Homo sapiens: one gene and its partner. The protein of the gene in region 2 purifies or fractionates together with the protein of the main gene of each other region. This does not show direct contact. Each region holds a gene or a part of one and is shown on either strand. Other genes may lie near its edges.

Region 1 (3,649 bases), on a different chromosome or scaffold from region 2:
TCTGCAGGGCCAAAGCTACAGGTCAGTGACACTAACCCAGACACAGAAACCAAGGACAGTGACCACAGCGGCAAACTTCACACTCTTCACTCTCAAGTCATTCCCTCCACAGATACTTAGAAAACAATGATGATTTCGCATTAGAAACAAAAAAAGGAAAAGGCTTTGGCAAAACAGACAACTGGAAACCCAAGTGTTATGGGTTATTCCAGTTTTTTTCCAAGGAAAATAAACTGTTCCATGGTTGACCCCAAGAATCCTCACCAACAGTCGACATTACACTTGAGGCTAAGTGCCACATGAGGGGGCTCCCATGCTCCACCAGCCCTCGGGGTGTCACTGGTAAGTGCCCTAGGCAGGCGGTGAGGACAGGGGGCATGTGAGGTTGGCTGGGAGGCTCCAAGGGCAGGCCACAATGCGCTGCCAGCCACCGTGGCTCCTGGCCCCTGTCCCTGTTCCAGAAGTGCTTATTTCAGAGTCCACATGCCAGGGCACATCTAAAACCTGGCTCCTCGGCCAGGAAGCAGGGACGTGGTCCTCTGCCAGCAGTCAGGAAACGCCAGGCTGACGCCTCCTCCCAGGTGGCTCACACCTGCCCCCTGCGTGGGCACTGCCCCAACTCCTCGGCGGCCAGTACTCCTCTGCCCCAGCCCAGCCCAGCCACAGGCCAGGACTTGCATTTTTATTTTTAACAAGTACCTCCAGTAGCCTGGTGGTCCCAGATCTGAAAGCCACCTGGTGTGGTGACTTCTCAGAAATCTTCTTACGCTCCCACAAACCTCCCAGGTCACCTCGAGGGAGGCAATGGAACTACTCACGAAAGAATAATTGGATTTCCCAGTTTTCCTACCAGAGGACACAGATGTGCTGTCACTGTCAAGCCTGCCAAGCCCTCGGAACCCACCTGTGCTGACAAACATGACATCATAGACAGTCCCATCCAGGGCCTGGGTCCGGTCCACCACGATCTGGGTGTAGTTCACATCTTTCTTGATTAACCTGGGCCTGTTGTCTATTGGGGTTACCGAGTCATCCATCAAAGGGTGGTCTTTAACGAACTGCAGCGTCTTGTCTGGCAAATTCAAGGAGCTGGTGTAGTTGGCGGCCCGTGCCTCGCTGTCGATGCACTGCAGGGAGAAAATCCCCGCTGTTAACGTGCTCGTGTCCCACCACGCAACGGGTGCTTCCACACAAGCAGCCAACGCAGGGGGGGCTGCAAAACCTGGAAACCACACAATGCATGCCTTGAAATGAGGGTAGCAGTGAATAACTTTACTATGAGGAAAGGTGGCCTCTCCCCAGCCAGCAGAGGACACAGTTATAAAACACATCTGCAAGACAGAATTGCATTCACGATACATACTCAGGGAAGGAATTTTTATCTATTTGTAAGTGAAAAACACTTATTGAGCTTTTGAAATTAAAAAACAGAACACTGATTTGCAGCTTTCTCATGAAAAGAATGCTAAACATGGCTAAAACCAGGACAATTTAAAATAGCATAAGAGCCTGAGGGATTCTTTTTTCCTGTTCTAGCTCCCTGATGTGTGTAAACCAAAATCTGTGACCATGAGTGAACACATTTTACGAAGCTATGCATAGAAGGAGCCATGATGGTGTCAGGGACAGCTGCCCTTGGGAGGGAGCTGGTGCTGCAGTGAACTCTGAGGGCCAGGACACCCCATGTAGGTCACAGCCCCACAGAGGGCTGTGCACATGCCTGTCACACCCATTTCCCCATGTGAGGGAAGGAATCGGCCTGGAAATTCCCAATTTCTACATAAAGTTCACTATATTTAGGAGGAAAAAATGTGACTCCTGTTGACTAGTGGACAGTGCAGAGGCCTTTGCCAAGGAATCATGTGTTTCTCTGTAAGAAACTGAAAATGAAACAGACCTAATTGTTATGCAATGTTAATTGTGCAAAACAGCTGCCCCAGCCTTCTTGTTTGTGCAATAGTGTAGCAATGGCTGTTACGTAACATGCAAAAGGGAAGAAGGATGAGCTGTGCTCATCGGCCGTCCCTGTCCCAATGCAGAGAGCCTTGGCGTGGCCAGGTACCCAGCCCATGAGCAGGCCCCAGTGCCTGTACTGGATTCCATGCCCTGGGCCTTGAAGGGAAAGCACGGCCCGCCCCCAGTGCCCCAGCTCACCGCTCCAGGCCGCGGCTTGGGTACCGGGCCATTATAGCGCACCCACTTGGTGTGGGACTGCTCCACTGTGGTGCTCTGCATGTACTTCCCGTGGGAGAAGACCTCCTCGGCTGTGGACAGGTTGTAGGCGCACACTGCCGACAGCCCCACGTTGTTCCTGGGGAGGGGAAAGAGGTGACGGGACCACCTGGCGGCATCAAGGGAGCAAGGAGGGGGACTCCACCCAGGGCACTTACAGCTGTGGGGTGAAGAGTGCATAGAACACAGGCACCTTCAGGCCCGGGGACCTGAGCACGAAGACATCCCGCAGCACATTGAAGACCAAGCCGCTGTCTGGCCGGGAGCAGATGAGTCGGGCTTTCAGGAAGGAGGTCCATTTCTTCTGCAAGGTCCTCAGGCCGCCCTGGTCCCCCTAAAACCCCAACAAGAAGACGTGGTGGGCCGAGAGTGGATCCCCTGTGAGCAAGCACTAAGGTCAGAGGTGCACCCCTCCATGGCCCAGCACAGCGCGGCTGTGCCTGACTGAAACAAAGCTCGGGCAACAGGAGACAGATGCCGCAATTATGTGAGTGGCCCGCAGCACCACGTCCAGGTTCCAGCTTGGATCCCAGAACGCTCCTGGGTTAACACACAAAACAAAACGGACAAAAGCCCTCTCACTGAAAGCTCATTTGATCGTCCATGCCTGCCTGTGCCCAGCATTCAGTCCTGCAACCGCAGAGGTGCTGCCGTGCTCACACACTTCCAACTGCCAAGGCCCCTGGCATTGTGTGACTTTCCTGACATAGGGCCCATCAATGAACATGCTCTGGGTGGGGCAAGTGGCGGCAGCCTCCTTCCAGGGGACAGCCACCGGCCCTGCAGCCTGTCTTGGGCAAATGTGTGAACCTTCCTCCCTTTAAAGGAATAGATCCTTCACTTCCTTTCTACCCAAAGTATCTGCTAAAGTGCTTTGAACCTAAGTTCTTTATAAACGCTTTTCAGGGATCCGATGACCAAGACACAATTATAAACTACACATGACTGTGTGTGGTCTGGAGAGAAATACTGAAACCACAAAACCTGAGTGCAGAAGAATATGAAATAGAAGCAGCCTTACTTATTTTGGACACAGGGAAAATGTTCCCCCTTCATCTCTGCTGTGTGATTACAGGAGCCCAAATTCTCTTTTTGATAAAAGGACTTCATTTTCCTCCTTGATGTTTTAGCAAAGAATAATTTCTAGCACATTTTTCGTCAGGGGTCTCATGTGGCTTTCAGGTCACGGGCAGCAGGTGAAGGGTTCATGTGTGCCTGCGTGGTAGGCAGGAGCTGTGGGGCCTAAGCTCAAACCACCCTAGTCCAGGAGTTCAAACAAGTATGGGGAAAAAAAAGGGATCAGAGGGGATGACAGCAGTGTGCCTAAGACTTGTAGAAACTTGTCGGGGGTGGAGGTGGCTGCTCTGTGCATCGCTGAATCTGCTCACTGATCCTGCTGCAAACCCTCAGTGCTGGG
Region 2 (3,649 bases):
ATGGTTGTTGATTGACCTCTAATAGCCTTGGCAACAGTTCATCCCCTGATACCCCAACATCAGCCACTGGGACAGCTGGACAAGCCTCTGTGTCTGCCCCTGCTGTACCCACTAGCCACTTGCCACCTTCTTGTCCAAACTAGAAGCTCACAGCAGCAAACGCCCCACTCTAAAGGTCCCCCAGCCTCTACCCAACACTGGCCCAAGCACATTATGACCACTGCCACAAAAGCTTGGGCAAGTCTGAAGAAGGGGCTTAGCGGTTACAAGCTCAGGCTCTAGAACCGACAAGCCTGGGTTCAAGTTCCAGTATCATGGCTACTAGCTGCAGAACCTTCAACAAGCTTTTTAACCTCAGAGACTCAAATGCTTCATCTGTAAAATGGGGGTAACACAGTACCTACCTCACCGAGTTGATGGAGACAAATAATGCAGGTTCACAAGACAAGTGTCTGGCATATACAAGTGCCCAGTGAATGTAGGCTGTTGCTATATTTACCTTAATAATAAGGAAGACTGCCGAGGAAGAGTCAAATGCTCCATTGTACAGAGTGATGATGGTCGAACGGTGTTGGCCAAATAGGTTCCCAATCTGGGGATGATAGGACTAGCCTGGATCACTTATTTATTCATGAAACAGATACTTCCTGAGCACCCAGCATGTGGCAGACCCTCCTTATACCCAAACTCACCCTCCACCGCTAGAGCTCCCACCTCAGCTTGGGCCAACCCCATCTGAGGCAGCCAATTATAGAAAAGGGTCTCTCCTTCCCTCCACCTTCCCGCCACCCTGCCGAGTGCCTGGGATTAGGGAAGGCTCCCACCTGCAGGTTGGTGATGAGAAACAGGATTCCCCCAATGGTGAGCATTGGCATGGCCAGGAAGAGCAGCACGGCTGAGCCTGGACCATCAAAGTCAGAGGTAGGGTGGTGTCATAGTGCAACCCAAACATGGAGCCCCAAACTCTGCTCCCACCTGCTCCAAATTCCCAACAATCCTGGTATCCAGGCCCCAATTCTAGCCAGCGTTCCAGCGTCCTTCAAGGGTTTTTAGGATACCGGCCAAGGCTTCCCCAGATATCTCTGTGGAAGTCTTCTGAGCCACCTTCTTCCCAACCAAAGTTGGTCCTCAGTCTGTGGCAGGCCAGGAAGTCTACAGACAGAGGCAGAGCTCTAAGTGAAGCCACCTCTCTCTTCCCTCAGTAAACCACAAGCTGCCTCTCCCTTTCATCCTTGACACTCCTGGAAAAGAAGACCCTGGACTCAGGTCCCTGGCTCAACCCTCTAGCCCATTCCCTAATTCATGGTATTGGCCTTGAGCTTCAATCATCTGTTTAATGGGAACAACAGTTCCTGCTCTTCCTGTCTCAGGTGCTATGAGAACTGAGTGAGAAAAGGACCATGGTCTTTTCTTTGTTCACTAAACTCTGAGCACTTCTTTGGTGCCAGGCATTGTGCTTGGCACTGGAAATGCAAGATGAATCAGATAGTCCTTGCCCTTAAATAGACTGACATGCAAACAAATGGTTATAACAGGTCTGGTAAGTGTGAGACCACAGCAAAAAAGCTCAAGAGCTGGGCTAGGGGAACCCTTGACAAATTCTTCCTCCCCAAACCAGACTTCTGCCCACCATTATTCTGGCCACAACCTATGCCTGTCCTATTATTTGCTAAAATGTTTTAAGTTGACTCACTTTTATCCAAAAAGTATCTATTTTTAAAGGACACTTTATATCACTACTGTAGATGAAAACACTGGCATTACTTGTCATGAATAGAAAGTAACTGTCAAAATAAATACAATGAAAGGAAAACAATGTTATTCAATTGTAGCTGGATGCATTTGACCTTAGAATGTTCAAAGCCTAAGACCTGCTCTTCCCATCAGTGTTAAAATCACACTGGCCCCACATGAAGACATTCTTTCATGAAATCAGAAGGACTGAAAGAGAAATAAAAAGGGAATAGCTGTTCTACCAGGTGATTTGATGTTTGTTAGTGTAGTTCACGTAGTATGCGTGTGCCCCTAACATCCTCTTAACTACCGTGCTATACCTTAAGAAGCACTGCCAAGAGCTAATTTTAGAGTATTCACACAGTTTACCATTCAATTTCTGTCTTTATAAAATGTACATCTCTCCTACTACTAAAGGTTGGAGACTCCTTTCACAATAGAGTCCTTATGGGCTCAATGCTTTTTTCAAAACTGAAAAGCCCTATATTATGGAGGAAGAGGAGGATTGTTGCTCAGACGATTTGCAGGCACGAGTCAAACATTACCCAGCCACCACCTCCACATTCAGTTGCTTAAAAATCATTTACAGGCTTTTAGAGTAGATGATGCTGGTTTGATAAGGAGAGTGGTTTGAAATAATTGGTTTGAGGTGCTGGGCCATCTCATGAGATCTGTGTGAACAAAGACACTCAGCCTCTGTGTTTGCCCAGCATGAGTGCAGACAATCTCATGATGCTGTCAGCTTTAGCATAGCTTACACACACAAGAGTAATGTACTTTCTTTCCTAAACCAAAAATTGAGCCACGGGTCTAACACTAGGAAGGAATATTGGGAGGCATCTCGTGGCCACCATAACCAAGGCAATGACAGAAAGAAGAGTGAGGGATCAGGAGGCCTGCACATCAGGCCCACCTCCCACTTGCTTTCTCTGTGGCCATGGACATGTCTTTGCAAGGGGTCCTGCTGTGGCTTCAGTTTCTCCTCTGTGTAATGGGTGGAAGGGTGGTGGAAAATAAACCAGATTGGAGTTCCAGACTTAACAGACTGGTGAAATTTTAAAACAAAGATTTTGAGTACAATAGGGTTGTCAACTTTTACCCTGCTAAGTAAGGATATTTGCAAAATGGTCATTCATATAATCATTTCATTAAAAAGAGAAAGAGAACATTTTAACACATAGGAGAAGGATGTAAAGGTTTTTTGTTGTTGTTTTGTTTTTTAGGGTTTTTTGTTTGTTTTTTGGTAGAGTCTCACTTTGTCACCCAGGCTGGAGTGCAATGGTGTGATCTTGGCTCACTGCAACCTCTGCCTCCTGGGTTCAGGCAATTCTCCTGCCTCAGCCTCCTGAGTGGCTGGGATTACAGGCGCGCACCACCATCCAGCTAATTTTTGTATTTTTTTTAGTAGAGAAGGGATTTCACCATGTTGGCCAGGCTGGTCTTGAACTCCTGACCTCAGATGATCCACCCGCCTCAGCCTCCCAAAGTGCTGGGATTACAGGAGTGAGCCACTGCACCTGGCCAGATGTAAAGTTTTGAATAAATTCTACTCTCTGAAGTAATCCCTCTCCATCATCCTTGCTTTTCACATTTTCTCAATAAACTGTTTTCACAGACCAGCAATAGCTCAAGATCCTTCCAGGATTCTTTCAAGCTGCAGATCTCTGAATAACCATGTGGTCTGTATATCTTGCCTATAGCCCTCTGCTCACACCTGCCCCAGCCACCAGGTGCCTCTGAGCTTGCATCCCTCCCACCCACCTGACAGCACTCACCTGCAGAGGTGAAGGCTATGATGAGTGTGGCGGTGGTGTAGAAAAATCTGAAACACATAACAGGAAAAGCAGAATATTGTCAAGGAGGGAGAAACCTGGGAGAAAAAACATGATTCTGCTCAGCCAGCCCACAAGTGTAG

Evidence for each region. The genes of interacting proteins can lie anywhere in the genome.
Region 1: the proteins of SLC43A3 (region 2) and SEMA4D purify together in Homo sapiens (affinity purification with mass spectrometry; one large-scale study listed by BioGRID and IntAct). This does not show direct contact.

The regions. Positions count from the first base shown.
Region 1 is NC_000009.12:89,386,482-89,390,130, forward strand, and holds part of SEMA4D (semaphorin-4D isoform 1 precursor), read right to left. Parts: intron 2,567-3,649; coding exon 2,391-2,566; intron 2,312-2,390; coding exon 2,155-2,311; intron 1,128-2,154; coding exon 905-1,127; intron 2-904; coding exon 1-1. UniProt on the Homo sapiens protein: Cell surface receptor for PLXNB1 and PLXNB2 that plays an important role in cell-cell signaling. Regulates GABAergic synapse development. Promotes the development of inhibitory synapses in a PLXNB1-dependent manner.
Region 2 is NC_000011.10:57,420,473-57,424,121, forward strand, and holds part of SLC43A3 (equilibrative nucleobase transporter 1), read right to left. Parts: intron 3,557-3,649; coding exon 3,510-3,556; intron 902-3,509; coding exon 825-901; intron 593-824; coding exon 500-592; intron 1-499. UniProt on the Homo sapiens protein: Sodium-independent purine-selective nucleobase transporter which mediates the equilibrative transport of extracellular purine nucleobases such as adenine, guanine and hypoxanthine.